4 linked regions of the Homo sapiens genome follow. The protein of the gene in region 3 interacts with the protein of the main gene of each other region in a pairwise test. Each region holds a gene or a part of one and is shown on either strand. Other genes may lie near its edges.

Region 1 (5,600 bases), about 45 Mb from region 3:
CATTTTTAGAAAAAAATCCCTCCGATTGGGTCTGAGAGTCTGGAAAATTAATCATTCTCCAAAGTTGAGGGAAGAGGTAAAAGTTAAAATTTGCTGGGTGTGATGGCTCATGCCTATAATCTCAGCACTTTGGGGGGCCAAGGCAGGAGGATTGCTTGTGTCCAGGAGTTGTAGATCAGCCCGGGCAACACAGTGAGACCCCATTTCTACAAAATATACAAAAATTAGCCAGGTATGGTGGCACGTGCCTGTAGTCCCAGTTACTCAGGAGACTGAGGTGGGAGGATTGCTTGAGCCTAGGAGGTTGAGGCTGCAGTGAGCCATGGTGGAGCCACTGCACTCCAGCCCAGGTGACAGGGTGAGACCCTGTCTCAAAAAAAAAAAAAATTATTTAAAAACATAATTGTCTATTTTAGCATCCAGATGATTTTTGTATTCTCCATGGAGTAAAAGTATACACATCAAATCATTTTAGGCTGGGGTGGAATTCCTCCCTTCAGTGGGAAAAAAATTTTTCTACGGAAAATTTTTCTTGATTTTCTGTAAATGGTACATTGGAGTCTGTTTTAAGGTTTGAGTTAATTAACTCAGATGCTTTTTTGTACTTTTTATTTGAGGCACATTCATTTGGAATCCTATCTACCTAAATTTTTTTTTGAAAAAGGACAAAATATAAACAAACAGTATATTCACCTAGACCCTAAAGCATAAGGATAGCATTTAGAAACATCTCAGAGGCCGGATGCGGTGGCTCATGCCTGTAATCCCAACACTTTGGGAGGCCGAGGAGGGCAGATCACCCAAGGTCAGGAGTTCGAGACCAGCCTGGCCAACATGGTGAAACCCTGTCTCTACTAAAAATACAAAAATTAGCCAGGGAGCCGGGCACGGTGGCTCACGCCTGTAATTCCAGCACTTTAGGAGGCCAAGGTGGGTGGATCACCTGAGGTCAAGAGTTCAAGACCAGCCTGGCCAAGATGGTGAAACCCCATCTCTACTAAAAATACAAAAATTAGCTGGGCATGGTGGCAGGCGCCTGTAATCTCAGCTACTCAAGAGGCTGAGGCAGGAGAATTGCTTGAACCCGGGTGGCAGAGGTTGCAGTGAGCCGAGATCGCGCCACTGCACTCCAGCCTGGCCGACAGAGTGAGACTGCCTCCAAAAATAAAATAAAAACATCCCAGGCCCTTGAGAGCGTTGATATGTCTGTCTGTGACTAGAGACTTCAAAATATCACCTTGAAAGTGAGGACTTCGGTGAAGGGCAGGGTGTGATTTCTTCTCTCTTTTGCCTGCTAGCCGCTGTGATTGGAACCAGGCTGCATGCTGCTGTGGCAATTGCTTGTGTTGTAATGGCCTTTTACGTCCTGTTTATAAAATGAATTCCAAAGCACCCAAGTCATCAACTGCCAACCAAGGGGACGGGGATGAAGAACCTGTTGGAGACCTGAACCCAGTGTAGGAGAGTTCAGCTGAAATCATCGGTCCCCAGGATGACACCACAGCATCTGCCCCTGCTATATGTGGGGAAAACTCATGGTCACGAACATTATTTATGCTTCAGGGGACTACAGAAAGCCAGCTTCCTTTGATCTATGTGTAAATCAGTCCTTGGCAGAGTGCATATAATGTCCGGATAAATTACACCCCTCGGTGATAAGATTACATACCTCCTTCATAAAAACCTGTCATCCTGTTTTGTTCTTCAGCTCCTCATCAGGATCTTTTCAAACTGAGGCTCATTAGGGAAGGAACTAGGCTGTGTTCAGACTTCTTTTGAAGAGAGAGAATTTTCAAGACTTCTTTTCACTCTTTGATTTGGATCTGGCAAATTGGGGAGGGGATGCTGGGTGGGAAACAGTTATGAAATGCCAAGAAATTCTTTGGCTTTAGAAATTTATCTTTCATGTACCCATCCGGGAACATAAAAGAGAGGCATAGTGCTCATTGCAAAAAGAGAACAGATGAAGTAGCTGTGTTATGTGCTGGTATCTTGAGAGTTTTGCCAAGAAAATCTGGGCCTACATAAAATTTGAGAATTATCTGTGTGATGAGACCAGAAAGCAGTGGCTTAGACAAGAAAAAATCTTTCTGTTCACCAGTATCCTCAAATGGAGACTTCACTTGATCAGATGGTATATGAAAAATGAATCAACTATTGCTATTTCGTAAAACCTTTTTATATTTTCTAAATTTACTTAGTGCTAAATACTGTTACTCAGTTTTAAATGCCACGACTAGGGGAAAAAGAAACTATTGAAGAAATAATTGTTTAGTATATTTGCAGTTGGGGTAGAAGAAAGAAATCTAGTATATTGATTCATATACTAGTAAATTCATCTAGTATAAGAACTTGTGATGTTAGATTGAAGTTTTGTCATCTTATAAAAGACAACAAACTTATTTTCTGTTTAAGTCTGAGTGTTATGGCAATTTTTAGTTGATTACTTATTTTTCTTAGCCAAATTTTAATTTTCTTCATATTGCATTGCTCTTTAGTTGTCTCTGGAAATTCTATTTACTTTAAGGACATGAGAAATTCAAATGAGAGAAGTTGCTGATATTCATCAGTGTGTTTGGACAGTTCATAGGGTCCACAAATCAAATGAGGTTGTTTCCTGAAGTAGAAGAAAACAGAACTTTGCAATTGATACTGAAGTACTTTGCCATGGAGTTAGTAACTCCTGAGCAGACCATTTTAGATGGCTCAGCATTTGGCAGGAAGACTTCTCCATTCCCTGCTTATATCTATGGAAGGATCAGCTGTTGGATGTCTAGAACTTCTCTATTTAAAAAAAAAGAGTAGGTCTAAAATTAAATTATTATAAGCAAGCATAGACATGGGTCTTCCAGTTGAATTGTCCATTACCGTAAAACTTAATGGTGGACAAGTTAGCTGTGGTTGATTCCTGTGTGGCAGTAAATTGTCTTCTGTCTGCTTACTCCAAATAATAAAAGCTGCTAGGAAGTTTAGATTTTGAAATAGGCAGTTTAATGCTTTGAGGGTTTCTAGAAATACAGAAAGTCATCAAGTAAACACTGCATGTCTAATCATCTCAGAGTTGTGGCTGTTATCTCTTCAGGAATTGGTCCACAGGGTAAATTTCAACAATTCATACGTTTTCCATTGTCATTTCTGAGGACCTTTGAGATGAGAGAAAGGAAATCTAGTGGAACAGGAAAGAGAGTTACACCTTGTGGGTGTGAGTTTGGGACCTGTTGGCAGAAGGGAATGTCACTCCCTGGAAACAGGTTCAGCATGTTTGCACTTGTTATTTTGTAGCTTTAATGATTTTTGTTTTCTAATAGGGCAAATGTCTCTAAGCTTGGTGTTTAGAGCTGCTTCATATTTTAAACTAGTTCCATTCCACAGTTCTAGTTCAAACCAGTTTTTACAGCCTCCTGGGTGGGTCGTCTTGACCCAAACTCTTGTGTTGTTACATTTTGAGAGGTTTTCATACCAGAATGTACCAAAAAGTGCACAAGGTAAAGGTAATTTACAGCCAGAAACAAATATACATTTGTTTCATTTCTTGACTTTCCCTAAGCAGATAAGCAGAAACTTGTTTAACTCATTACTTTGTTTGATGTGTCTTACATATTTTTGACTAAAAGTTATAGAATGTTATTCCTCTGGGGGAATCTTTTACAGGTGGAGGAATGGGGATAGCAGTATTGCCTCAGATTCAAACTGGCATCACCATAAACCCTGTAGGCCAGGGTGGAATGAAGTCAGCTCCTTTTTATAGTTGAAATACAATTTTTTATTCACCATTGTCTGCACAAATCCTTGAAAATAAACCTTTTTTTCCCTACAGTCTTTGTCAATTTATTTGTCACATGCTGAATTTATTGAAGTTTGTTCAGTCCTCCCCTGGGTTCAGTTCATAGCCTACCTTTTTAGTTCACATTAGTAAATACCATCATTCCTGTTATCCCATTGTGAGAGCATTGAATGTATTATATAGTTAAGAATCTATGATGGCCTAGTTTTCTCCTTTAGGGCAGCTGAGACAGATATATCTAGAGATATCTATAACTAGATATATATATGTATATATGATATGCTGAGATATATATAACTAAATATAAATGCATGTAGTAAGTTTTCATATATATACGAATAAGATATTCATATATATGTGAATGAATAAGTATTGAGGTATATGAATGAAATAAGGTAGATAGCACCCCCAATACATTCCATCTGCTATTGCTATTAAAATACAAGTATCATCTGCTCTAAACAGTCATAAACATCTTCATTCAAATGAAGTTAACAAGTTAACCAGCCAGACACCTAGAAAATCCTTGAGCCAGACTTTGGGAGGCTGAAGCGGGTGGATCACTTGACGTTAGGTGTTCGAGACCAGTCTGCCCAACATGGTGAAACTCTGTCTCTACTAAAAATACGAAAAAAGAATGTGTCACTGCACTCCAGGCTAGGTGACAGAGCGAGACTCCGTCTCAAAAAAAAAATAAAAAATAAAAAAAATCCTTGAGCCAGCGGGATTCTGGCACATACAATGGGTACTTTCCCCCTTATTTGTTTATTTCAAGTGCCTGGTGAGACTGGCACAAGTACAAATTAGAACTTAAATCATTTTGTACTACTCTCCAAAATTCTTCTGATTTCTACCCCCCAACACCCATTTCATTGAAAAAGGAAAAAGAAGGAATTGAGCCATTAAAATTATGCTTTCTAATGTGAGAGGAGCTAATTCTGCTTATATAACCACTGCTATTTTACACTCTACTCATTCTGGAACTTGGAAGTCAACGTATGTTTTAATAGATATGACCATAAATGAAGGCTCAAAAATTTGGGTGCCACAGCATTAAGTTGTGGGCAGACTTAGGGCTCTCTAAGTGGGGACAGGAATATGCCTTCCTATCTGTACCCATTTCATAGATATCCTGACTTCCTAATATTTGGATTTAAATACAGTATTCTTGGCTGTGTGCAGTGGCTTAAGTCTATAATCCCAGCACTTTGGGAAACCAAGGCAAGAGGATCGCTTGAGCCCAGGAGTTTAAGACCAGACTGGGCAACGTAGTGAGACCTCTGTCTACAAAAATGTGTTTTAAAAAGTAGCCAGGTGTGGGCCTGATGCGGTGGCTCATGCCTGTAATCCCAGCACTTGGGAGGCTGAGGCTGATGGACCACAAGGTCAGGAGATCAAGACCATCCTGGCTAACACGGTGAAACCTCGTCTCTACTAAAAATACAAAAAATTAGCTGGGCATGGTGGCACGCACCTGTAATCCCAGCTACTCAGGAGGCTGAGACAGGAGAATCGCTTGAACCTGGGAAGCGGAGGTTGCAGTGAGTCCAGATGGCACCACTGCACTCCAGCCTGGGTCACAGAGCGAGACTCCTCAAAAAAAAAAAAGAAAAAAAGTAGCCAGGTGTTACCTGTGGTCCCAGCAACTTGGGAGGCTTAGGTGGGAGGATCAATTGAGCCCAGAAGGTTGAGGCTGCAGTGAGTCATGATTGTACCACTGCACTCCAGCATAGGAGACAGAGCAAGACCCTGTCTCAAATAAGTACATACATACATACATACATACATACGTACTCTATTCCTTACCTTTCCCTTT
Region 2 (8,929 bases), on a different chromosome or scaffold from region 3:
CTCAGGTGTTCCGCCCGCCTCAGCCTACCAAAGTACTGGGATTACAGGCGTGAGCCACCATGCCTGGCCTTCATTTATTATTTTTTAGTGACGTGGTTTTGCTGTGACACCCAGGCTAGAGTGCAGTGCACAATCATAGCTCACTGTAACTTCCCACCTCGGTCTCCCCAAGTAGCTGGGACTACAGGCACGTGCCATCTGCCTGGTAAAAATCATTATTAATGTTGTGGATTAAACATTTGGTTGGATATTGGTGGTTTGTACTGTTGGTTGGATATTTGTGGTATTTCTAGTTTTTCATTGTTGTAAGTTTGTGAACATCTTTGTGTATACATTTTTATTTATTTATTTATTTATTTTTTTGAGATGGAGTCTTGCTCTGTTGCCCAGGCTGGAGTGCAGTGGTGCCATCTCGGCCACCTAGGTTCAAGCGATTCTCCTACCTCACCCTCCCGAGTAGCTGGGATTACAGGTGTGTGCCACCATGCCCGGGTAATTTTTTTGTATTTTTAGTAGAGTGGGATTTCGCCATGTTGGCCAGGCTGGTCTCAAACTCCTGACCTCAAGTGATCTGCCCGCCTCAGCCTCCCAAAGTGCTGGGATTACAGGTGTGTGCCACCATGCCCGGGTAATTTTTTTGTATTTTTAGTAGAGTGGGATTTCGCCATGTTGGCCAGGCTGGTCTCAAACTCCTGACCTCAAATGATCTGCCCGCCTCAGCCTCCCAAAGTGCTGGGATTACAGGTGTGAGCCACCGTGCCTGGCCTTATTTTTTTTTCTTTTTTTTTTTGTAGAGATGGGGTTTCATCATGTTGGCCAGGCTGGTCTCAAACTCCTGAGGTCAGGCAATCCCCTCACCTTGGCTTCCCAAAGTCCTGGGACTACAGGCGTGAGCCACCACGCCTGGGCCCAACTATTTATTTATTTATTTATTTATTTATTTATTTATTGATATTGAGATGGAGTCTTGCTCTGTCGCCCAGGCCGGAGTGCAGTGGTGTGATCTTGGCTCCCAACTATTTATTTATTTATTTATTTATTTATTTATTTATTTATTTATATTGAAATGGAGTCTTGCTCTGTCGCCCAGGCTGGAGTGCAGTGGTGTGATCTTGGCTCACTGCAAGCTCCACTTCCCGGGTTCATGCCATTCTCCTGCCTCAGCCTCCCAAGTAGCTGGGACTACAGGCGCCCGCCACCGTACCCAGCTAATTTTTTTTGTGCTTTTAGTAGAGATGGGGTTTCACCTTGTTAGCCAGGATGGTTTCAATCTGCTGACCTGGTGATCCACCTGCCTCGGCCTCCCAAAGTGGTGGGATTACAGGTGTGAGCCACGGCGCCCAGCCCCTTATTTATTTTTTTGAGACGTAGTCTTGCTCTGTCACCCAGGCTGGAGTGCAGAGGCGCGATCTCGGCTCACTGCAGTCTCCCCTCCCAGGTTCAAGCGATTCTTCTGCCTCAGCCTCCCAAGAAGCTGCGATTACAGGTGCCCGCCACCATGCCCAGCTGATTTTTTTGTATTTGTAGTAGAGACGGGGTTTCACCATGTTGGCCAGGCTGGTTTTGAACTCCTGACCTCAAGTGATCCGTCTGCCTTGGCCTCCCCAAGTGCTGGGATTTCAGGTGTGAGCCACCATGCCCGGCTGGACAGTGGTCACTTTTAAATCTTGAATTAGCTGATATTAAATACAAATTGAGAGGAGAATCTTCTGTTTTGGTAAATCAGAGGGACTGCATGTAATCATTGCCTGCTGTTAAAATTTGAAGTGACACAAAACAGCTGGAAGGAAACAACCTTGAAATCTTTTAGTATCCTCCAAAAGTACTATATATTAAAAATATTGCTGGCTGGGCGTGGTGGCTTACGCCTGTAATCCCAGCACTTTGGGAGGCTGAGGTGGGTGGATCAGTTGAGGCCAGGAGTTCTAGATCAGTCTGGCCAACATGGTGAAACCCCATCTCTACTACAAAAATACACACACACAAAAAAAGTTAGCCAATTGAGTTGGCTCATGCCTGTAATGCCAGCTACTCAGGAGGCTGAGGTGGGAGAATCGCTGGAACCTGGGAGGCAGAGGTTGCAGTGAGCCAAGATCGCACCACTGTATTCCAGCCTGGGTGACAGAGTGAGACCCTGTCTGAAAAAAAAAAAAAAAAATGCTGGCTGGGCATGGTGGCAGATCTGTAATCCCAGTGCTTTGGGAGGTCAGCGTGGGTGCTTTGGGAGGCCAATGTGGGAGGATTGCTTTAGGCCAGGAGTTCAAGACCAGCCTGGGCAACATAGTAAGACCTTGTCTCTTTAAAAAAAAAAAAAACTAGCTGGGTGTGGTGGTGTATACCTGTAGTCCTGGCTACTTGGGAGGCTGAAGTGGGAGGATTGTTTGAGCCCAAGAGTTTGAGGCTGCAATGAGCTATGATCACATTACTGTACTCCAGCCTGAGCAGCAGAGCCAGACCCTGTCTCAAAAAAAAAATAAAAAAATAAAATAAAAAACCTGCCAATTCTGTTCTACTCAGGAAAGGGATAGAGAAAATCAACAGATGGAGTAGTTTAGCTTACTTTATTCCTTTATAGGACAGGAAGTATATCTAGTGTTTAAGACCATAGTCAGACCTGGGGGTGAATCTCAGATAGGCTATTTACTATTTGTGTGATTTTGGAGCAAATTACTTAATCTTTCTTAAACATCAGTTCCTCATTTATAAAATAGGGATTATGAGAGTGCTTACCTCATAGCATTGTTGGGAGCATTAAATGAGACAGCATACTGTCTCTTTTATTTATGTATTTATTTTTTATTTTTTTGAGACAGAGTTTTGCTCTTTTTGCCCAGGCTGGGGTGCAATGGCGTGATCTCGGCTCACCTCAACCTCCGCCTCCCAAGTTCAAGTGATTCTCCTGCCTCAGCCTCTCGAGTAGCTGGGATTACAGGCATGTGCCACCACGCCTGGCTAATGTTTTTGTATTTTAGTAGAGACGGGGGGGTTTCTCCATATTGGTCAGGCTGATCTCAAACTTCTGACCTCAGGTCATCCGCCCACCTCAGCCTCCCAAAGTGCTGGGATTACAGGCATGAGCCACCGCGCCTGGCAGCATACTGTCTTAATAGATACTTAATACAAAAAAAAAAATTAGCCGGGCACGGTGGCGGGCGCCTGTAGTCCCAGCTACAGGCTGAGGCAGGAGAATGGCGTGAACCCAGGGGGCGGAGCTTGCAGTGAACCAAGATAGCCCCACTGCAGTCCGGCCTGGGCAAAAGAGCGAGACTGTCTCAAAAAAAAAAAAAAATAGATACTTAATAGTAGTTTTTATTATTACTTTTCTGACTGAATGACTGTGTAATATTTAAATAATTAAACGACAGAAATAAGATTCTGCCTTAGTTCTTCCTTCTTCTCAGTTTTTTTTCTTATTTCTCAGTCTGGCTAATGTTTTAACCCAAAGTTTAGGAAAATGGTTAGTTTAATCTTTTTCATGAAATGAGTTATAGTTATTAGCTTGTTATGTTTAATTCTTGTTTCCTTTCTTTGCATAAAGCTGAAACTGATGTAAATGTGGTCATGCTTCAGGAATCCCAAGTTTGTGAAAAGCGTGCCAGCCAACAATTCTGTTACACAAATGTGCTTATCCCAAAATGGCATGATATATGGACACGGATACAGGTAATAACTTGGAATCCTCTGGCAGTGGCAGCTTCTGTAAATTTCTGTTGGTGATTAGTGAGTATTTTGACACTTTCTTCCCCTTCACATGCTTAAAAAAAATGTTGTTAACAATCTTGTTAGGGTTGAGATTATCCTGAGTTGTGTTTTCATCAATAAGCATTTATGCCTACTTTGTATTCCTCTCTGCTCCCTCAAGTAGATTACGGTATTCTAAGGTAAACTTCTTTCCTCCTCCCTCCTTTTCCCAAAGAAACTGCTTTGTTTTCTTGTCCTTCATTTTGCAGTATGTGTGTGTGCACGCACACATACCCCTCTTTCTTTTTTTATTTTTATTTTTTATTTTTTGAGGCAGAGTCTCCCTCTGTCGCCCAGGCTGGAGTGCAGTGGCACCATCTTGGCTCACTGCAATCTCTGCCTCCCGGGTTCAAGCGATTCTCCTGCCTCAGCCTCCCAAGTAGCTGGGATTACAGGCATACGCCACCACACCTGACCAATTTTTTTGTATTTTTTGTAGAGATGGGGTTTCATCATGTTGGCCAGGCTGGTCTGAAACTCCTGCCCTCAGGTGATCTGCCCACCTTGGCCTCCCAAGGTGTTGGGATTATAGGCATGAGCTATCGCACCCAGCCCCCTTCTTTCTTTTTAAAGGCCTTATGCCTTCTTTGGGCTGGAAACTGTTATGTGCCTGTGAGGATGTAAACTCTTTTGCCCCACTGTTCCTATTCTGATTCTATATGAGATATTTCATAAACCCCCGAGCTGAAGAATTACTTTGGTCTCATTTATTTCATAACACTGTTAAGTCACCTGGCAAACAGGAATGTCTGGCTGTAACAGTGATTGTACAAAATAGGTCCTTTCAGAAATGTCGTAGTTGTTATAAGCATAGTTACTGATAAGGACATTTGTTGTTCACATCAAAAACATAAGGGTGGACTTGTGGATTTGTTTTTTTTTTTTGAGACGGAGTCTCGCTCAGTCACCCAGGCTGGAGTGCAGTGGCACGACCTCGGCTCCCTGCAACCTCTGCCTCTTGAGTAGCTGGGGGCCATGCCCAGCCAACTTGTGGATTTTTAAAAAAAATTCTTTAAAAAAAATGTCTGACAAGCCGGGCGCAGTGGCTCATGCCTGTAATCTCAGCACTTTGGGAGGCTGAGGCGGGCAAATCACTTGAGGTCAGGAGTTCGAGACCAGCCTGGCCAATATGGTGAAACCCCGTCTCTACTAAAAATACAAAAATTAACTGGGCATGGTGGCGCACACCCTGTAGTCCCAGCTACTCAGGAGGCTGAGGCAGAAGAATCGCTTGAATCCAGGAGGTGGCGGTTGCAGTGAGCTGAAGTCATGTCACTGCACTCCAGCTTGGGCGACAGAGCGAGACTCCATCTCAAAAAAAAAAATTATCTGATAAAAAAGTGATACTCCATCTGGGGCACATTATAACCAACATTTACTCATAATCAGTGGCTTGTGACAATGGATTGAACTCAGCCTGTCATTACGGAAAACATTTTTAGTTTTCTGGGGCAGTTTATGCCTGGCAATTTTCTTAATATTATAGACCTTTGCTTTGTGTGATCTCTAATAAATAGCTGTATTGATAACTCTTTCAGTTTGGAAGTCTTTTTTCCCTCTATGTTCTGCCCTAATAGTAGATTCAGATCATGTTAACAAGAAGGTATTCTAACAGCTGTCTCTCTGTAACATGTGCAGTGTTATTTGCCCAATTATGTTTTAGCCACTGTATTTCTATATTTCTGATAAGCTTTGTGGAAAACTGGCACCATTACTGATTTGGTTGTTAGTCTGAGGGTTTTTTAAAAAATTGTATTTGTGAAAAATTAAAATTCCTACTTCCTTTTTTCTCATCCTGATTTTATTTGTGTTACAGATCCGAGTAAATAGTTCCAGATTGGTTCGAGTCACCCAGGTGGAGAATGAGGAGAAACTGAAGGAGCTAGAGCAGTTTAGTATCTGGAACTTTTTTTCCTCCTTTTTAAAAGAGAAATTGAATGACACCTATGTTAACGTGGGTCTATACAGCACAAAAACCTGCCTCAAAGTTGAGATTATAGAGAAGGACACCAAGTACAGTGTCATTGTGATCCGGAGTAAGTCTCACCTCTGTTTTTCTGATGGATTCTGTAGTGATAAGGACTGAGTTCTGAAGGGTATAATTAGTGAGACTGAGAAGTCAGCCTAAGACAGCTCCAGTTGGGTTCTGATTATAACCCTGAGTATACCACTGCTCTAAACAGTTCATGGAGACTTCACCCCTATCAGACAGGCCTAGAATTGAAACTCCACCTCAGGAAATTCTGAGTACCTCCTTACCTGGAACTGTGAAGACTTTTATTCTTTTATTCCCAATTACATTGTGCTGCTAATGTCCCTGAGCATATATGCCAAATACTCTTAGAGTAAATCAGATAGACGTGTTCTACCTTCTGGACACTTCTAGACAAAGGTAACTGTCTGATGTGTACATGCCTACATTTAAAGACGTGAATGGTTAATAAAAATTGAAGAAAGGTAAAATTGAAAATCATTCACAAGTAAAAAGAGTATTCATGGAACCATAAATAAAGATGAAGACCACTGCAGTTTAAAACTTATTCAGTGGAACTGGGAGAAGTTTTCTCTTTTCTGAAGATGACTGAGAAAGTTTCAGGGGAGATGGATCCTGTTGAATTCTCTCTGACTTTGTTTCCCCTTGGTTACTACACAGGGTCCTGGGATGTTGTAAGTAGTAGAAATGTTTCTAGGTTTAGTATGAAATAGGTTGTGCCCTTCCATTTGTCCTAGGGTTCTTTGGTTACGTAGGGTTGGCTTGTTTTTTGACGTTCCTTCTACAGTTACTGATTCCTTCTGCTCCTGTTCTGTTTGTGGGCCTCCCGTAGAACTCTTGAATGTGAAAGCTGTGGGAGTATCTGGTATGCCACTAAGGGGCCTTTGCTAGGGCCCCCTGGTCCTGAGTGAGAGGTATTTGCGTGTAGGCTTTTCCAGCACAGTGTTCTGTAGCAAAGGGAAGTAGGTGGTATTGTTGGGCAAGAAAAGCAGCCAGTTAGAGAACAACACAAGGCCCTGACCCACAGTTCTGGGCAAATCTGCTGAGTTCCATGACTGTGAGTGACTTAAAGCTTGAAAGCCAGAGTGATAGAGACCCCTTGTGGGTGATTGCATGAATTGCTGATGGTACTGTGTCTAGCTTTGTCCAAAACGAAGCTTGAGTTTCTTTTAACCTTAGCATAGGTAGCCTAAGTAAAAGTAAGATCTTCAGGCAAATACAGGTTAGACAGAGACCTAATTATACATTGGAAGGGTGCCCAGGCTTTAGGTGAAATTTAAATGCTTTTTAGGTGGGCTGTTTGCATTTATTTTTACTGTAGCTGACCAATAGTGCCAACGTTGTCTTTTATTCTATAATACCTTAAGCAGTTTTGTTCCCTTATTAAGCAAAAATCTTTATTTATTTCAGGATTTGATCCCAAACTCTTTCTTGTTTTCCTTCTTGGACTTATGCTATTTTTTTGTGGAGACTTGCTGAGCAGGTAGGTTCCAAGGCTAGTGTGCAGAATGAAACGGCTCATACCTATCCTGCCTGCGTTTTATAGTAACTATTAAGTACTGCCATTCCCATTTCCAGGACCTTTATGGCTTGGCCGTTGCCTGCTTGGATATTTAAAAAAATACTTTAATGTGTATTATGATTTTTGTTTTTTCTTATTTGAACAATGTTGACAATAGTGAAATTCCCACATTAGGTTGGCCCATCATTAGGTTGATAGGAGTTAGCCAATACAATGAAATGGAACATCATCACCCTTTCTATTGCTAGAAGTAATGTGTTAAGGTGTCATCTTTACAGGTCCATGGGTTGATGAGTTTCATTTTGTTCAGACGTAAAGAAACAAATAGCTTCTGGGTACGGTGGCTCACGCCTGTAATCACAGCACTTTGGGAGGCCAAGGCTGGCGGATCATGAGGTCAGGAGATCGAGACCATCCTGGCTAACACGGTGAAACCCCATCTCTACTGAAAATGCAAAAAAATTAGCCAGGCGTGGTGGCGGGCGCCTGTAGTCCCAGCTACTTGTGAGGCTGAGGCAGGAGAATGGCGTGAACCCAGGAGGTGGAGCTTGCAGTGAGCCGAGATCGTGCCACTGTGCTCCAGCCTGGGCAACAGAGCAAGACTCCATCTCAAAAAAAAGGAAACAAATATCACAGCTCAGCCTGGGCAACATGGCAAAACCCTGTCTATACAAAAATTAGCTGGACGTGGTGGTATGTGCCTGTGATCCCAGTTACTCGAGAGGCTAAGGCACGAGAACCGCTTGAGCCTGGAGGCGGAGGTTGCGGTGAGCCAAGATCACACCACTGTACTTCAACCTGGGCCACAGAGGGAGACCCTGTTTAAAAAAAAAAAAAAAAATCAAGTGTTTATTCATTTTTTCCTTTAGGAACCTACTAGTTAAGACAGGTGAGACTGACATGTACAAATATGAAGAAAATATATAGGTAACTAAATAAACATTGAATGAAGGTAAAATCAACATTAAGTTTGTATACAAGTAAAAAGTATTTGTGGAGTAGTGAATGCAAGATTAACAATTGGAGTTTGAAGTTGGGCTGGAGTGGGGTTGCTGGAAGTTGTTATTTTGGTGATGCTGAGAGAAACAGGGAGGAATAACTGGTAGAAAAAATCTGGAATGGGGGGCTGGTTGTGGTGGCTCACCCCTGTAATCCTAGCACTTTGGGAGGCTGAAGGGGGAGGATAACTTGAGCCCAAGAGTTTGAGACCAGCCTAGGTAACATAGTGAGACCCTGCCTCTACAAAAAAATACAAAAATTAGCCAGGCATGGTTGTGCATGCCAGTAGTCCCAGCTACTTGGGAGTCTGAGGTAGGAGGATCACTTGAGCCCAGGAGGTTGAGGCTGCAGTGATCCGTGATTGCACCACTGCACTCCAGCCTGGGTGACAAAATAATAATATTCAGGTCGGGAGAGATGATGGGGATGTGAATAGGACATTACGTAAAGGCTGATTATTGGGAAATACATGAGGGAAGACCTTTAATCCTAATCTTCATAATCTGGCAGTAACTACATAGCATCAGTCTCTACAGTTCTCTGACCTCAAGTTTTGGGCAAATATAGTCACACATCACTTTATTGTACTTCACTTTTTTGTGGTTCACAGATAGTGCATTTCTTTCCAAATTGAAGGTTCGTGGCAACCCTGGGTCAAGCAAATCTATCACACC
Region 3 (8,882 bases):
ACCCTTTATTTAGTTCATGTGACTTAAGTAATCTTTGGGAAATAAATACAGTTTTAAAGATTATTGGTAAAATAAAAAATCTTCAAAAATGTAAACATTTTGTCCGGGTGCGGTGGCTCATGCTTGTAATCTCAGCACTTTGGGAGGCCAAGGCGGGCAGATCATTTGAGCTCAGGATTTCGAGACCAGCCTGGCCAACATGGTGAAACCCCATCTCTACTAAAAATACAAAAATTAGGTGTAGTGGTGCAAGCCTGTAGTCCCAGCTACTTGGGAGGCTGAGGGAGGAGAATTGCTTGAACCCGGGAGGCAGAGGCTGCAGTGAGCCGAGATTGAGCGACTGCACTCCAGCCTGGGTGATGGAGCGAGACTCTGACTAAAAAGAAACAAACAAACAAACAAAAAAAAATGTAAACATTTGGTCTAAATTATACAGGTCAGATATTAAGTTTGCTAAATTCTTTAAGGTCATAAGCTGCTTCTTTGACTATTAAAAATTGTTCAATTTTAGGCTGGGTGCAGTAGCTCACGCCTGTAATTCCAGCACTTTGGGAGGCTGAGGCAGGCAGATCACAAGGTCAGGAGTTCAAGACTAACCTGGCCAACATGGTGAAACCCCATCTCTACTAAAAATACCAAAAAATTAGCCAGGCATGGTGGTGCGCACCTGTAATTCCAGCTACTCAGGAGGCTGAGGCAGTAGAATCACTTGAACCCAGGAGGCAGAGGTTGCAGTGAGCCGAGATCATGCCATTGCACTCCAGCCTGGGCAACAGAGGGAGACTCTGTCTTAAAAAAACAAAAAAACCCAAAAAACAAAAAACAACAACAACAAAAAAAATTGTTCAGTTTATCTACTTTGGAGCATTAGATTAAATGTGTTATTGGTACATGTTCCAAAATTATGAGAAATTCCTATAATTCTAATATGACTTAGCGTATGTTATTAATAATTGTTACATAAAATTTTGTATGCAACAGAAGTAACCAAAATTTCCTAGTTAATTGTGGCTTTACTAGTGGCTGTCCTAAGACTTTTTTTTTTTTTTTTTTGAGACAGATTCTTGCTCTGTCACCCAGGCTGGAGTGCAGTGGCACGATCTCAGCTCACTGCAACCTCTGCCTCCTGGGTTCAAGCACTTCCTCTGCTTCAGCCTCCTGAGTAGCTGGGATTATGGGCACCTGCCCTATGCGGCTAATTTTTGGATTTTTGGTGGTGACGGGGTTTCACCATGTTGGCCAGGCTGGTCTCAAACTCCTGACCTCAAATGTTCCACCTGCCTCCGCCTCCCAAAGTGCTGGGATTACAGATGTGAACCACTGCACCTGGCCCTAAGACTTTTTATCATCCACAGACAATTGTTGTCTTGTTTTGATCTTCTTTAGAAGGTAGTTTATAATCAGCCATAGGACTTTAACAGGTGCACTTAAATGCAGGTTTCTGATAACTTTGGAGATTGTGACATTAGAATAGAGGAAACAACTTTCAGAACTCTCATGGGGAGCTGAAATGTTCATAGATATCAAACAAAAGTTAACTGCATAAACTAAAGAAGACTAAAGCAATCTTTTTGCCTTTGCTTAAAACATTGCTGATCCTTTGTTTTATTTTTTAGAGTCAAGGCAACTTTTCTTTTCAGATATTTACAGCTTTTAATAATCGAGTAAAGTATACTCCTGTGAACAAAATTTGGAGTATATGCATCTCTCTACTTGATTTCTCCAGAATTTGGAAATTATTTGTGTGTATTCTTAATTTATGGCAATGCAGTTATTTGCATAAGGGTAATAAGAATCTGTTTTCTTTTGCAACAGGACACAATTGGAGAAATTGTTTATTTTATGAAGGGTTTGACTGGAATGGTGTGCTTTCCATTAAGGAATCAAACTTGACTTGTAAAGCCTATAAAAGCCACTTAGCGACCTGGGCTCATAACCTTGCCTACACAGTCCCTGTACAGGGTTTCTGACCTGTGGTAAGTAAAGAATGTCACCTTCTAAAAGGTCCAGGAGCCCCAAGTTATCTGGGGACCTCAAAAGGAGAGGAAGAATTTACCCAACTCAAAGGTATTTGAGGGCACAAACCCATGGCAGGGCTCAGCTTTAAAAAGTCTTATCCAAGATTCTTTCTATGGAACAGAGTTCCATCAAAGCCAATTTTAAAAGCCTACGTGAAAAATAATTATTCTTGCTGCACTTTATACAATCATCAGGCCAAGTATAATAAAGCACATTGGTCTTACCATAAAAATGGTCTTTCATAAAAATGGGAAACTGGAGAGAGAAAAATTATGTTTCAAGAACTATGATACACTTGTTATTAAATTCCAGTCTCATCAGTTGTCTTTAAGTTTGTTTCTGCAATTTAGGCTAACCCTGCTTAGTCCTGTGAACCAACCAGTGGCCTCTGACTGCTGCTCAGAAGAAACAAGAGGGATGGGTAATGTAAAAATCTGCATCAATATTCTAATTCTGGGCATGTACTGGAATCATCTAGCAACCTCATATCAGCGTGGTTCCAACAGTTCCTCAGTTCATGGAAAGCCTTCTAGTTTAGTTTACTTGGGATAATTTTACTTATTTTGCTTTATGGTTGTGGAATGTATAGCTGTTGTAATCTTTGTATAGGAATGGAGGACAAGCTTACTGAATGTTTCCTTAAACTGAACACTTATGAATCTTCCAGAGTATCACCTTTTGTCAGAACTCATGAGTTATGAATGGCCCTCAAGATACCAATGCTTTTTCTTCCCTTCCCTTCCCTTCCCTTCTTTTCTTTTCTTTCAGATGGAGTTTCATTCTTTCAGGCTGGAGTGCAATGGCACAGTCTTGGCTCACTGCAACCTCCGCCTCCCAGGTTCAAGAGATTCTCCTGCCTCAGCCTCCTGAGTAGCTAGGGTTACAGGCACCCGCCACCACATCTGGCTATTTTTTTTGTATTTTTTAGTAGAGACAGTGTTGCACCATGTTGGCCAGGCTGGTCTGAACTCCTGACCTCAGGTGATCCGCCTGCCTCAGCCTCCCAAAGTGTTGGGATTACAGGCATGAGCCATCCCGCCTGGCCCATACCAACACTTTCCAACTGAGCTCCTCTCTACCACGAATATGAGAGATTCTAAGAGTTAGGCAAAAATATCATCGCCCCTATTCATCCTGAAGAACTTACAGAAGATGGACCTTCGTCCCTCTGCAACCCTTAGGATTAGTGCTTCTCTTATAAAAGGAAGGGGGGAAATGTCAGAGGCACGTGAACCAGAGCAAGTCTATTTTGAACAAGAGCTGAGTAAAATGAGAATGAGACTTACTGGGCTGCATTCCCAGATGGTTAAAGCATTCTAAGTTACAGAATGAGATAGGAGGTTGCCATAAGATACAGGTCATGGCCGGGCATGGTGGCTCATGCCATGACAGTTTATAAATGCCATGACAATGACAGGAAGTTACCCTATATGGTCTAAAAAGGGGAGGCATGAATAATCCACCTCTTGTTTAGCATATCATCAAGAAACAACCATAAACATGGGCAACCAGCAGCCCTCGGGGCTGCTCTGTCTATGGAGTAGCCATTGTTTTATTCCTTTACTTTCCTAATAAACTTGCTTTCACTTTACTCTATGGACTCGCCCTGAATTCTTTTTTTCTTTTTTTTGAGGCGGAGTCTCGTTCTGTCACCCAGGCTGGAGTGCAGTGGTGCGATCTCGGCTCACTGCAACCTCCACCTCCCGGGTTCATGCCATTCTCCTGCCTCAGCCTCCCAAGTAGCTGGGACTACAGGCGCCCACCACCATGCCCGGCTAATTTTTTTGTATTTTTAATGGAGACGGGGTTTCACCATGTTAGCCAGGATGGTCTCAATCTCCTGACTTTGTGATCCCGCCTTGGCCTCCCAAAGTGCTAGGATTACAGGCATGAGCCGCCGCACTCAGCCTGAATTATTTCTAGTGTGAGATCCAAGAACCCTCTCTTGGGATCTGGATTCAGACCCCTTTCCTGTAACAAGATTAGGCACCAGGAGAAACTGACACACATGGATGATATAACAGATGCCTAAATGGATCCTATGGGGGAACTGGAGCTGGAACAGCCCTTTAGAGTTGTCGCAAAGTGAGGCAAAGAGGCTAGACTTTTATATCCCTCCATCAATCAGTGTTTGACATGGGCCCCATAGGAGGGCATGTAACCTTCGGTGAGGCATCTTTCTGACTTGAAGGGCATTGCCCAATGAGGGAGGTAGCTATGTGGTATCAGCAGCTGGTATTTCCTACATGTAGCGAATGGGCATATTGGCTCCCAAGGGGGAATCTGGGTGGAGCACTATAGTATCCATTAAACCTAGTAAAGAAATATTATTTCTTTACTAGTCACACAGATGTGCCCAGGACAGTGGTAGAGCCCACAGGGTTACATAAATCATAATGGTAGCCCTCAAGAACTTCATAAACTGTATATGGTATTTTAAAAAGTTGCATATTGTCTGTTTCCACCTACTAGAACATAAGCTCTAGGAGGGCAGAGACTATGTTTTGTTCACCACTGTTTCTCCAGTGTCTAGACGTAGATTCTTTGAATGCATTTAATTGGAGCCTTGAGATATGAAGAAGTAGGATGCGGTTACTTCATGCAGAGCAAGAGTGGCATGCACCCAGAGAAGGCCAGGTGGAGCTCAGCATGAGTGTGAAGGCCTCATGTCAAGCCATGTCAGGGGACACAAAGATGGAGTATTCTCTAACCTATGTGACACTCGGCATAAGGGAAGTACAAGCACTCAATATGTGAGTTTCATTCCCACAGTCTGTGGTCTTTAGCCCAGTCTTTCCAGATGCCTATTGAGTTCTTCAAGCATCCAAATGGTTTGGGGTAAGGCTTCAGGTTCTAAATGAGAGGCTTTGTGGGTTACCAGCTGGAGAGTCAGAAAATCTGGATTTGAATTCACTCAGCCATGAAATAATTGTGTGATCTTGGGCCGGGCACGGTGGCTCACGCTTGTAATCCCAGCACTTTGGGAGGCCAAGGAAGGTGAATCACTAGAGGTCAGGAGTTTGAGACCAGCCTGGCCAACATGGTGAAACCCCGTCTTTTTTTTTTTTTTTTTTTTTGAGACAAAGTCTCGCTCTGTTGCCAGGCTGGAGTGCAGTGGCACAATCTCGGCTCACTGCAACCTCCGCCTCCCTGGTTCAAGTGATTCCCCTGCCTCAGCCTCCCGAGTAGCTGGGACTACAGGCGTGCACCACCACGCTAATTTTTTTGTATTTTAGTAGAGATGGAGTTTCACCATGTTGGCCAGGATAGTCTTGATCTCCTGACCTCGTGATCTGCCTGCCTCGGCCTCCCGAGAAACCAAGTCTTTACTAAAAAATATCAAAATTAGCCAGGTGTGATGGACCTGTAGTCCCATCTACTTGGGAGGCTGAGGCAGGAGAATTGCTTGAACCTGGGAGGTGGAGGTTGCAGTAAGCTGAGATGGTGCCACTGCACTCCAGCCTGGGGGACAGAGCAAGACTCTCTCTCAGAAAAAAAAAAAAAAAAAGTTTGATCTTGGGGAGTTCTAAGGCCCACTAGCCTCATCTGTAGAATGGAAGCAATAGTACTACTTTGCAGAGCTGACTTCAGGACCAAGAGATCTAATGTCTATGAAGCGGGGTACTTCCTTCTATTTGTCAGGATGGGGGAGGCTAGTCCTGTGATGACTGGGAATGAAGGGTAAAAGAGACAGAGGTTGGGTAAACTCCAGGCTCTGTGTTCATAGCCTGCTCCCAGACATTCTCTTGTTATCTCTCTGTTTCCTAGCCTACACACGTGCACAGACACGTAGCTGCTGTTCAGGAACTGAGCTAATGGTTTTAAAGTCTGTTCCTTATCTTTGCTGGAGGCAGGCAGTAGCTGTGCAGTGACAGTGTGCCTATGCAGACAGAGGGAGCAGTGAATAGCAATAGGGTGTTTCCACCATGGTCTTCACTCAGGCCCCGGCTGAAATCATGGGCCACCTCCGGATACGCAGCCTCCTGGCCCGGCAGTGCCTGGCAGAGTTTCTGGGTGTGTTTGTACTCATGGTAGGTAGGATCACTGCGGGAAGGAAAGAAGGGGGTTGGGCAAAAGTTCCTGGCTCCTTCTGTTGTCCTTATCTCTTTCTCTTGGTGTCCCCCTTCCTCTCAACTCCCTATCACTTTTCGTTTTTATCCTCTCGTCTCTCCTAATCTCCTTTCCTCTCCTACTTCATCATTTTTATTCTTGTCATTTTTATTCTTTCTTTAATAACAAGTGTATCATAGTTCTTGAAACATAATTTTTCTCTCTTCAGTTTCCCATTTTTATGAAAGACCATTTTCATGGTAAGACCAATGTGCTTTATTATACTTGGCCTGATGATTGTATAAAGTGCAGCAAGAATAATTATTTTTCACATAGGCTTTTAAAATTGGCTTTGATGGAACTCTTCCATAGAAAGAATCTTAGATAAGACTTTTTAAAGCTGAGCCCTGCCATGGGTTTGTACCCTCAAATGCCTATGAGTTGGGTAAATTCTTTTCTTTTTTCCCACATTCTTTCCCTTTCTTCTTCCTCCACTTTCCCCATTTCTTTTCCCTTCCCTCCTTCTGCTTTTCTCCTTCCCTTGCTTGTCTTCTGTGCTCATTCATCTCCTTGGCTGCTCCCCTGGCCTTCCCAACCTTTCTCCCTGTTGGTCTCCTGGGCTCCCTGTTCCTCATCTCTCCTCTTCTCAGCAGCTCCTCACCCAAGGAGCTGTGGCCCAGGCTGTCACCAGTGGAGAAACCAAAGGCAACTTCTTCACCATGTTTCTGGCTGGCTCTCTGGCCGTTACGATAGCCATCTACGTGGGTGGTAACGTCTCAGGTGAGGAGGGTGGGGTCTGGTCATCAGAGCACGTGGGATGTGCATGCCAGTTTGTCTGTCTGGTGATGGTGGAAACGCAAATCCTTCTGTGACTCGTGGACATTATCCCCTTGAACAGTGTCCCAGACTGAAATAAGCCTTTGGCCCCACCAGCCCCTCCTCTTTCTGTATCTCTCCATCCTGCTTCCTCACACTAATGCTTGGCTCACCTAGACAGAAATCAATGGCAGGGCACGAAGGGCAGCTGCTATCCTCTTGTATCCCCCACCTGAAGTCCTCTGGGGGCTCATCTCCACTCAGGACCTCTCCTGTTTGTACCCCAGATACACACTGCATCGGTGTGCTTGGGTGGAGCCTTGAGACATAGTGTGTTGCTGTGGAAAAAGCAGACAGACCTAGGTTCCAACTTTGGATTCACAGTGTCTTCTTCTTTTTTTTTTTTTTTTTTCTTTTTTTTTGAGATGGAGTTTCACTCTGTTGCCCAGGCTGGAGAGCAGTGGTGTGATGTCTGTTCACTGCAACCTCTGCCCCTGGGTTCACGCGATTCTCCTGCCTCAGCATCCCGAATAGCTGATTTTACAGGCACCTGCTACCACGCCTGGCTAATATTTGTGTTTTTAGTGGAAACGGGGTTTCACCATGTTGGCCAGGCTGGTCTGGAATTCCTGACCTCAAGTGATCCACTGCCTCGGCCTCCCAAAGTGCTGGGATTACAGGCGTGAGCCACTGTGCCTGGCCCACAGTGTGACTTTGCTAAGTCACTTAACATCTGTAACATCTGGAGCCTCAATTTCCTAAGCTGTGTGATGAGAATTACACTATCTGCCTTAAGAGCTATAGGAAGGAGCAGTAGTGTTGTCTGGTGACAATGCCTGGCAGTGACACTTAATAGATGCTCTTTTTCTTTCCTTGATACTTGAAGGGGCCCACCTGAATCCAGCCTTCTCCCTGGCCATGTGCATCGTTGGACGCCTCCCCTGGGTCAAGCTCCCCATTTACATCTTGGTGCAGTTGCTGTCTGCTTTCTGTGCTTCGGGAGCCACCTATGTTCTCTACCATGGTGACAGAGGGAACAGAGGGAGCTGTGCCTTGAGAGCACCTGTGGGTGGGCAGGGGTGCCTCAGAATGGTTTTGGATGAATGAGCAAAGAGGGAAATCCTGGGTGTTCCCTTCCTCCACAGATGCCCTACAGAACTATACAGGTGGGAACCTGACAGTGACTGGCCCCAAGGAGACAGCCTCCATTTTTGCCACCTATCCTGCCCCCTATCTGTCCCTGAACAATGGCTTCCTGGATCAGGTAAGTGTGAGGGGGAGACCTGGGGACACTACTTTGGTCCTGTTCCTCGGCACCCCAGCCTATTGTTCAGTCTCTGGGTGGAGTGTGGGTTGGGTCTATCTTGGCACTCCCCACCATCCCCAACTGCCTGTGTTGCACAAAGCCAGATGACATGGAATATTTGGATGAGAGAGGGCAGATGGAGCACCTGGCAGCTGACAGGGAACCCTCTGCCTCTGTTGACTCCAAGGTTCTGGGCACTGGGATGCTGATTGTGGGGCTCTTGGCCATCCTGGACAGACGGAACAAGGGAGTCCCTGCGGGTCTGGAGCCTGTGGTGGTGGGGATGCTGATCCTGGCCCTCGGGTTATCCATGGGTGCCAACTGCGGGATTCCACTCAACCCTGCCCGGGACCTGGGCCCACGTCTCTTCACCTACGTGGCTGGCTGGGGTCCTGAAGTCTTCAGGTGGGAGACAGACTCTCCTGGTGCTGGCCTCCACTCACCTTCCTCTGCTAAGGGCTCTGTCCCTGGGTCCACAGCACTCTGCCTTTAAAATAGCTCTCTTGGCTTCTTAGGACAGTGTTCTTTCTCCAAGTCATATTCTCCCCCTTTCTCCCTTGCTTCCCTCCCAACTTTTCACTGAAACAGTAAGATTTAGAGGTTGTGTTCTTAGGCATGCCACATTACTTCCATGCACATTAGTGACTTCATCAGCAAAATTAATATATTCAGATAATTCCCTAAGGCAAGA
Region 4 (8,929 bases), on a different chromosome or scaffold from region 3:
CAGTTGCCCCATGTATTCCCTATCAAATGTAGCATCCAGTAGACAACATCCACAGAGATCAATTTGCAATTATACTGAGCTGGTTCAGCCTTTAGGTTGTTTCATCATGAAACACAGAGAGAACACTTTGAAGCATGTGTTCAGGTAAAACAGGAGGGAGAGCACTGGACAGGGAGTCGGAAAAATCAGATTCAAATCCCAGATCTGCTACTTATGAACTATGTGACCTTGGACAGGTCACTGAATCACCACTTCCTCATCTGGAAAATGGGGACAGCAATAACTACTTTGTCTACTTTCAGGGTTGTGAGAATCAAGTAACAATAATGTCAAAGTCCTTTGAAAATGGGCAAGATCTATAACAACTGTAAATCATGATAATACCTACTATTAGACAATAATGTGTATACAGGCGAACTCTTCCTCTTTCCAGGGTGGTTGGGTTTTCTTTGCGTGCTTGGGTCAGAATCATTTGACCAATTATGTGTGACCAGATGAGAGGTGAATGTTGGAGGAACTCAATTCCTGCCCTGGGTAACATCAGGAATCCTATCTAATGTCAGCCGAGCTGACTGGATAGGTTGTGCATTAAAAACAGAGAGGGAGTAAAGAAGGATGTTGAATATTACTTCCTCAGGGGATGAAATCCCTGAGGAAAGGCAGGAACAAATAAAGTGACCACAGGGACAATTGCCTGTTATGGAGGCTGGGTGGTTTCCTCCAGAGGAAGAGTGCCACAGATAAGGGCACGATTGAGGATGCACATTGGGTCCCAGGTCCTAAGGGTGGACGATACTTGGGCCAGGTACATATGATGGAGCAGCCACTGAGTTTTCATTTATTCAATAACAGAGTATCTAAAGTACTTTGAATTATAGATCATCTCTAACAAGGTACTGGACTGCCACTACTTCTGATGTGGAGTGCACTGCTGTTCAACAATTGCAGTAAACACATTGTATCATGGAATCCGGGATTGGAAGGAACTTTAGAAGTTGTCTGAGCCAACCTTCAATGCGGGATTCATTTTTACAACAACCAATTAAATGTTCGTACAGCCTCTGCTTAATCACCTCCAGGAACAGGGAACTTACTACTTCAACCATATAGAATCCCTTAGGATTGGAAGCAAGGAGGAACACTGATTCAGTAGTGTCTGCACAAAAGATTTATGGGGAAAATGATAGCTCATTAATTTTTGCCTTGATTTGGAAGGGGAATGTTCCAAGTGAGTCTTTGGGATAATGATGGAACCAGAAAGGAGCAAAAGAGCAGTAGCTGATTATTCTCTGCTCTGAAACACAATGCCATTATTGAACAGCAAAACATTGTCTGCAAGCCTGTTGTCGTCTGAGAACAGTGGCTGTTACCCTGGTAACCAGACTGTGATGCCTCCATCCAAAAGTGGCTGTTTGCCAAGCAGTGTAGTTTTGGCTGGCTTGCAGTAAGTGGGTGTAGCCCAGGCAAAAAGTGTGGCGGCAGAGCGGGGGTCCAGTTTTATAAAATGCCCGAAGACTAACTGAGTCCCATCAAAATGGCAAGAATGCCCCAAGAATACCAGGAGCCAAAAATAAACCAGATCCCAGCCAGCATGTTCACCTAGTCTTCCTGGAGACACTGACTAAAATAATCAAGTGCAGCCTTCTCTACCTCACTTCTCCCTTTGGCCGTGCAGAGCCAGAGGAGTTCTTGGAAAGCCAGGCAGTTTGAAAGGTCTACCCTGCTTTAGGGGGCCTTGGGCTTGGCTCTGAGCTAGGAAAGCCAGAAGTTTACTTAACAGGCTGACAACTGGAACTGCTCTCTCAGAGCGATCTGAGTAATAACAACCTCAACCCTGGGAGGTGGGTGGGAGGGGAAATATAGTCTCCAAACCCATTAAGGTAGAACTCCAGCCAGTAACATCACTTTCCCCCATTGCTTTTGTCTATCGTCCTGAAGCCTTGAAAGCCATCCCCTGGGTACAGGTCTTTGTCTTGAAAGAAAGCAACAGTAGAAATGCCTTCCCTGCCCACAGCACTTCAGGTCTAAAGAAGACCAAGTGAGGACAGTGACATGATCAGGAAGGGTCACAGCAGCCATGGTAGGTGAATGGAGCAGCTTTTCCTTCCTTTCCTGCTTTCAGAGCCTACTCAGTGCCAAACTTACATCAAAAGCTCAGCAAGTACTGATTGATTAATCCCTCTTGCCTACGGCAAAATGGCCCTGAGGGCTATCTCTCAGCTCTGCACTGGCCTCTGAGCTGTCTGCCAGGCAGGGCTCTAGAAAAGAGTCCCAAGGAAGAGAATAAGGTTCCCCAAATCAGCTTCACACTGCAACAAGGAGAGAGGAGGAAATGGTGGGAGACTGACCTGAGGAACAAGGTATGGCTACTATTGTCTCTAGTACCAGTTACTTCCCTTTCATCTTCCCATTCGTGGGCAAGGTGGAGACAATGTGCCAAGGATAAGTTTTAACAATCAAAGTCCTACCTCAGCTTCCCAATGCTTGCACATAAATTGGAATGTGTACATCATTCATTCTGTCTCTCTCTGTGTGTGTGTGTGTGTGTGTGTGTGTGTGCGCGTCTGAAGAGGAGTGGGGAGTATAGGAAACAAGATAGTCCAGATGCTGTTGCCGTGGTAATACTAAATCGTGTCCAAAGAGGAGGCTGAGATTCCTTTTTAGTTAACCTTGTCCACATGATTTGACTATCCAGCAGGCTTGGATTCCCAGGCCCCAGAGACTTCGGGACTGTTTTCCAGCACTTGAATGTGGTATATAAGTGCTGATATCAAAAGGGATATGTAGGAAAGACAAGATTATAGGCAGGGCATTGTCTGACCAGGACGAGGCCCGAAGCAAAAGTCTTTGTTTGTCTCTGGCACCTCTTGATAATTGTTGTTTTACTCCTAGAACCCACCCACTGATCCCCATCCATCCCTAGTACCAGTCACGGCTGCTCTAGCATTTCGGCCTTGTCAACTACTGCAGGCCCTGATCAAGGAGGCCTCTGTTCATGGGGTAAGGTTAAGGGGTGGGTTCTGGGAGGAGGGTAAGACTGTAGTGCAGATTCGAGACCTAGGGAGGTGGGGCCAGTTTCTCACTCAATGAGCCTGCCTGTTGTTTAGCTCTATTGTATAGGGTTCTTCTATCTCTCCCTTTGTCAGCTGGATTCAAGGGACAGGCTGGGAATTGTGCAGGGTACAATTGGTCTCTTTCTACCATTCCTTTCGATGAAAGCCCTTCCTCTCCTTCCTTTGATGAGTTCCCAGATTCACACTGAATTTCCATCATGGAGCTGGTCCTTGAGGCGGGCCCAGGGCATGGGAAAGGAGGGAGGGAGGGTTGGGAGCTCTTGGTGCCTGCTTAAAGAGACAGCATCAGGATCAACACAGTCCCTTGATGAACCTGGATCTGTGTAAGTCACATTGGTTCTGTTGATCTCTGTCAGACCGCTGTGAAGAGCGCTGGTGAGAAGGGCTTAAAGTTGGAGTATCAACTATCACAGATTGATTAGACTTGTTTTGGGAGTTTGTATACAAATGTAGCCAACCATGACATGATCTTTTCCCTTTGCTTACATTTTGCCCACACAACTTCGTTATATCCATTTTAACACTTGCTTATAGGTAGCTTTAGATTTTGATTCACAGACATATGTTTGTTCACCCCAACAGGATTTCAAGTTTTCTAAAGAAAGGGACTGGCCTTTTAATTCCCTTCTGTTTCTCCTAATGTCTATGTCACTGCTAGTGTGCTTAATTCTTGTACTGAATTCACATAAACAGAAATGAAAGAAAAACACTGGAGGGGGTCATTATTTTTCTCTATGACCTTTCATCAAAGTCAGGTGGCTTAATCTGACTGAGTTGCATTGAGAAATGTTATTACTATATGGTTCTTTTATGCCAACTCTCTCATCTCGCAGTCTGTACTTAGACTGGAAATGTGAGAATGTCTCTTGAGAGAGCCAAGGAACTTCTCCCCTAGAATCTCTTCCAGCCTTCTTGAATCAAACTCACACCCTTTCAACCAGGAGGGGTTCTGAAATGGAGAGCTTTTGGCTTTAGGCTATTGTTCACACATACCCAAGGGACATTTCTTGGACTGTGAAAAATCAAAGGGAGCCCAATGGATCTTTTCTCAGAATGCTTTGATTGTCAACTACTTTGATGAAAAAATAATTTCTTGCAGGCTCTGAGTTTTTCTCAGTTAGAATCTAAAATCTGATTCTTGCTTGGACAGACTGACTGAGATTCTTCACTTCTGCTGAACTTAAATGCCCCCAAAGCAAACATTTCATCTAGGTTGTGAAGAGATGAACATCTGATGCTTATGCTGATATTACTGAATTGTTTATAGCTTAATAGTGATAGATTTATCTAAAGTCATTTATTTCAGACTTTACATTAGAAACTCATTAAAGCCTACTTCTTTCTTGTCCCTTGCTTTGAGCTGTAGTGGAGCAGAAAAGGGGATGCTAAGTTATTCAAGTTCTAAGAAAATAGAGGAAAAATGGATGTAAAAAGAAAGGCTATGATCTGGTGACTCAGAATTGCTCCTAAGGCTTAGCCATTTATCACCCAGTAAGAACACAATCCATGACACTCTCAGGTTATTTGGATGATGATTGAGGGATCAGATACACTCAAGAGGATGTTTCCCTCTCATCTTTGCAACCCTAGAGGTGGCATCACCTAACGCTTAAAGTGGAGTTCTCTTTTGGCTAGCAAGAGTTCAAGTTCCTCCATCCCTGACCATACCTGCACAAGCACTTAGCCCTTCCCAGATGAAAATGCTGGGATGAGTGAGTAGGCCCAAGATGGTCACTTGCTAGGGTGGATGGCTCTTCTTACCCTCGGCTAAACAAACAGTCCTGCCATTGTTCCCTGAGTCTGACCCCCTCCCCACCCCCCGGCTGCAGGCCCCTGTGGAATACCAATCAGGCTCCTGAGATCTCAGGAAAGAACAAGGCTTCTTTGTCCGGGGGAGCTATGGAGGGCTCTGTCCAAGCCCTGACCCTGTGCTGGGGAGAAAGGGAACAGTGGGGTCACTGACCTTCTTCTCCCCCCATCCCCAGGCTTCAGAGACTTTCTTTACTAGAAAAGTCTAAGAGTTTGGGGGTGGGGAGGAGTTGGATAGGCAGAGAAGGAAAATGGCAGTACTGTTTACTTCTAAGCTCCTTTTCTTGACTTATAGGCTGAATCTAGTATCTTAACCTGTTGAGAAAGAGGAAGATCAATTTCTGGAATGTTTTCTGAGAACAACAATCGATTTCAGTTGTTGTGTTTTTCTCTGTGGTATACATGTGTGTATGTGCACATTTGTACACATGCATGCATGTGCGTGTGCACACACACAGACACACCCATGGGCCAGCTCTGAAAAGACACTCTTCCCAAGCACGTTTGCAAAGTTCATGCTGAGTAAACTCAGCCTCCACTCACAGCAGCACAGCTACAGATTGCTTCTTATAGAGGCCAAGTTTCCTGGCAGCAATGCTTTAGTTCTTGGAAAAGGAAGTTCTGCTCCAAATGTTAGCTGCTTACTTTGTTTGGCTTGGGCTTCTGAGGCTCATCTTTGGTGTGACACTCTTTGAAGGCCAAGAAAGGGCTGTCATTTCAGGGGATGGTGGGTAATAGGACTCACTCCTTTTGTGTCTCTGAGAACAGAGGCAAATGCCTCTACCTCGATTTTCCCATGACAGAGATAATTTGATCTTTCCAAATCTGTTCACACTGATGCAATTCAGCCATGTAAATCACTAGGTATTCATGCTCTCTGGGCTAAAAACAAACTGTAACTAATGTTAACAGAATCAGGAAAAGGAGTCCCCTTTCCCTGGTACCCTATAGAAAAGTGAGTGTGGCTTGGAGAAATGCTTGAATACAAAAATCCAAGCCTAAGTAATTAATACAATTTATTTTTATTGTACAAGCTGTCACAACCTGCTTATTCAAAAATAGCAGCTTCCCAGTACATTTGCTGAGTATTTGTGTGTGTGCATGTGTATACTGTGTTTATAGATATATAAAATCAGTGGGTATATATACATATATTTATATATATACATACATATGAATTAAGACATTTTTTCTGAAGAGCTTAACATTCTCATTTCTTCTACATTTTAGGGATCTGGCCGAGAGGCCAGAGGAAGCCATTCTTTTCCTCATCTAGTCAGTCATCTACTTGGCATTTGCTAAGGTTCACTCCATATGACATCTTAGAGCATGGGACTAGTACTTGGAACACAGCTGCTTTCAGAGCCTGTGACTTCTTGTGTGCCTCTCCTGTTTCTCAGCAACACTGGCATAGGGCCTGGGATACCAGGTCTGGGGATCTCAGGGACTCTTAGCACTTTAAGACACATGTGTTCCCAGGCCCTGGTGTGTTCCTCTAGTGCCAGAAAGATGTTTCATGCTTTGCTGACTTTGTATAAAGTCTGTTTGTAGCTGTTTTGACAGAATCTCAGCGTATAACTGAGGGTGGGGACATTAGCCAAGCTGCATTATAGGAGGACAAAACTGCCATACAAAGTGTCCAAAATCATTAAGCCTGCATTTTTATTATTGGGAGTAATATCAAACCTCCTATTTTCCAATTTTCATTTCTTGTCCTGTGCTAGCTCCATCCTGTTTGGACTGCTCCTCCCATATGTAAACTAAGAAGAATCAAGCATTCTTTGCAACAAATACACACGATGCTCAAAAATGTCCAGGAGCATCCAATTTCCAAAGTTTCCTCCACCTGGAATGCTCTTCATGCTAAAATCCTGTCTGACAATACCAGCATCTCTGGCCTGCACTCATCCCTTCCTGGAACTCCAAGTGCATTTACCCTCTGTTACCACTTACTTGGCTGCCTGAATTGTTAGTTGAAAATATTAGGTCTACTTAGCTAATTCTTCCTCAGGAAATTAAAGACTCCCATATGGCAGAGTCTGTGTCTTTTCTCTCTTCATATCCCGTATAACACCCAGCATAATGCTGGGCATATAGTGAGTATTCCATAAATAGTTGATGAATGACTAAAATAAGCAAGCAAACAAACAGACTAGAACAATAAGAAAGAAGGGACTGATTTCATAATCTCTCTGGCTTGCTATTTGAATTGCTGAATTATTATTATTTATTAAATATTTTTTAAATTCTGGCAATAAAAGGTAAGGATTTATTTTCTTTCTTTCTTTTTTTTTTTCTTGAGACAGAGTCTCGCTCTTACTGCCCAGGCTGGAGTACAATGGCGCAATCTTGGCTCACGGCAACCTCCGCCTCCTCCTGGGTTTAACAGATTCTCCTGTCTCAGCCTCCTGAGTAGCTGGGATTACAGGCATACGCCCATGCCCGGCTAATTTTTGTATTTTTAGTAGAGACGGGGTTTTGCCATGTTGGCCAGGCTGGTCTTGAACTCCTGACCTCATGTGATCCACCTGCCTCAGCCTCCCAAAGTGCTGGGATTACAGGCATGAGCCACCGTGCCCGGCCAAAGATTTATTTTCAAGAATGAAACAAAGTAAGGATTCTGGGTCAATCTCACATGCTGAAAGCCAAAACCTCTAGCCGCTCCTGCTTTTTGACTTCGGAGTGCCCACTATCTCCGAGCCTGTGAGCACAGGGCCTGGCAGAGGGGTTTGAGTGGCATGAGCTACCTACTGGATGTGCCTGACTGTTTCCCCTTCTTCTTCCCCAGGCTTGTTAGAGTGCTGTGCAAGATGTCTGGTAGGGGCCCCCTTTGCTTCCCTGGTGGCCACTGGATTGTGTTTCTTTGGGGTGGCACTGTTCTGTGGCTGTGGACATGAAGCCCTCACTGGCACAGAAAAGCTAATTGAGACCTATTTCTCCAAAAACTACCAAGACTATGAGTATCTCATCAATGTGTAAGTACCTGCCCTCCCACACAGACCCATCTTTTTTTTCCCTCTCTCCATCCTGGAGATAGAGAACTCTTCAGTACCTTAGTAACTAGCAGGGGACTGGGGTGGAGCCAGACCGGATTCCCGAGTCTTCCCTCTGTGCAGATCTCTCCTGCTCCACATTCGAAGCCCATTCAGAAAGGAGGGGTCTGCCTGCCTGCCTGTCAGCCCCTCCCACCCCCGCCCCCTTGTTTTCTTACACGTGTTCTGACTTCTGCTAGGTGTGGTTCATATTGCCCAAGTTGGAGCCTCCAGCGTAGTAGGTATGGAGAAGCCAAGGGAGGCACTAAGCCTCTCCTGTTCCTAGAACAAGTTAGGCTCCTGTTCCTTCACCCACCTTTCTTCTTGTCTAGCTCCCTACTCCTGTGAGTTAGCATGTCTGAAGGGTGGGGCAGGGAGAGTAGGTCCCTGGTTCTCCAGGTCCCAGGGTAAGCAAGGTGTGGCGGGAGGGGCATATGTTTCTGGTCACATACACCCTGTCTTCACTTATTTCAACAAAGATAAGGTGAAAGCATGCAGGAGGAACCTGGTGATTCCTCTAGAAAATCCCTAGCCTTGTTAAGGTGCTCGCTCTGGTGTATACCTCACTTATGTCGGGAAAGAAGCCAGGTCTTCAATTAATAAGATTCCCTGGTCTCGTTTGTCTACCTGTTAATGCAGGATCCATGCCTTCCAGTATGTCATCTATGGAACTGCCTCTTTCTTCTTCCTTTATGGGGCCCTCCTGCTGGCTGAGGGCTTCTACACCACCGGCGCAGTCAGGCAGATCTTTGGCGACTACAAGACCACCATCTGCGGCAAGGGCCTGAGCGCAACGGTAACAGGGGGCCAGAAGGGGAGGGGTTCCAGAGGCCAACATCAAGCTCATTCTTTGGAGCGGGTGTGTCATTGTTTGGGAAAATGGCTAGGACATCCCGACAAGGTGATCATCCTCAGGATTTTGTGGCAATAACAAGGGGTGGGGGAAAATTGGGCGCGAGTCTGTGGCCTCGTCCCCACCCAAGGCTGGGTCCTCTCTAGGGGCCTGGCATTTGA

What was found.
Region 1: the proteins of AQP10 (region 3) and TMEM167B interact in binary tests that used the Homo sapiens proteins (3 or more experiments, as listed by UniProt).
Region 2: the proteins of AQP10 (region 3) and NEMP1 interact in binary tests that used the Homo sapiens proteins (3 or more experiments, as listed by UniProt).
Region 4: the proteins of AQP10 (region 3) and PLP1 interact in binary tests that used the Homo sapiens proteins (3 or more experiments, as listed by UniProt).

The regions. Positions count from the first base shown.
Region 1 is NC_000001.11:109,093,119-109,098,718, forward strand, and holds the end of TMEM167B (protein kish-B isoform 1 precursor), read left to right. Parts: intron 1-1,298; coding exon 1,299-1,381; coding exon of another isoform or gene 1,382-1,461; 3' UTR 1,462-3,816; downstream 3,817-5,600. UniProt on the Homo sapiens protein: Involved in the early part of the secretory pathway.
Region 2 is NC_000012.12:57,067,522-57,076,450, reverse strand, and holds part of NEMP1 (nuclear envelope integral membrane protein 1 isoform a precursor), read left to right. Parts: intron 1-3,538; coding exon 3,539-3,663; intron 3,664-5,557; coding exon 5,558-5,777; intron 5,778-7,144; coding exon 7,145-7,217; intron 7,218-8,929. UniProt on the Homo sapiens protein: Together with EMD, contributes to nuclear envelope stiffness in germ cells. Required for female fertility. Essential for normal erythropoiesis. Required for efficient nuclear envelope opening and enucleation during the late stages of erythroblast maturation.
Region 3 is NC_000001.11:154,315,211-154,324,092, forward strand, and holds the start of AQP10 (aquaporin-10), read left to right. Parts: upstream 1-5,882; 5' UTR 5,883-5,945; coding exon 5,946-6,050; intron 6,051-6,719; coding exon of another isoform or gene 6,720-6,722; coding exon 6,723-6,849; intron 6,850-7,771; coding exon 7,772-7,909; intron 7,910-8,030; coding exon 8,031-8,149; intron 8,150-8,378; coding exon 8,379-8,596; intron 8,597-8,882. UniProt on the Homo sapiens protein: Aquaglyceroporins form homotetrameric transmembrane channels, with each monomer independently mediating glycerol and water transport across the plasma membrane along their osmotic gradient. Could also be permeable to urea.
Region 4 is NC_000023.11:103,777,911-103,786,839, forward strand, and holds part of PLP1 (myelin proteolipid protein), read left to right. Parts: intron 1-7,671; coding exon 7,672-7,858; intron 7,859-8,554; coding exon 8,555-8,816; intron 8,817-8,929.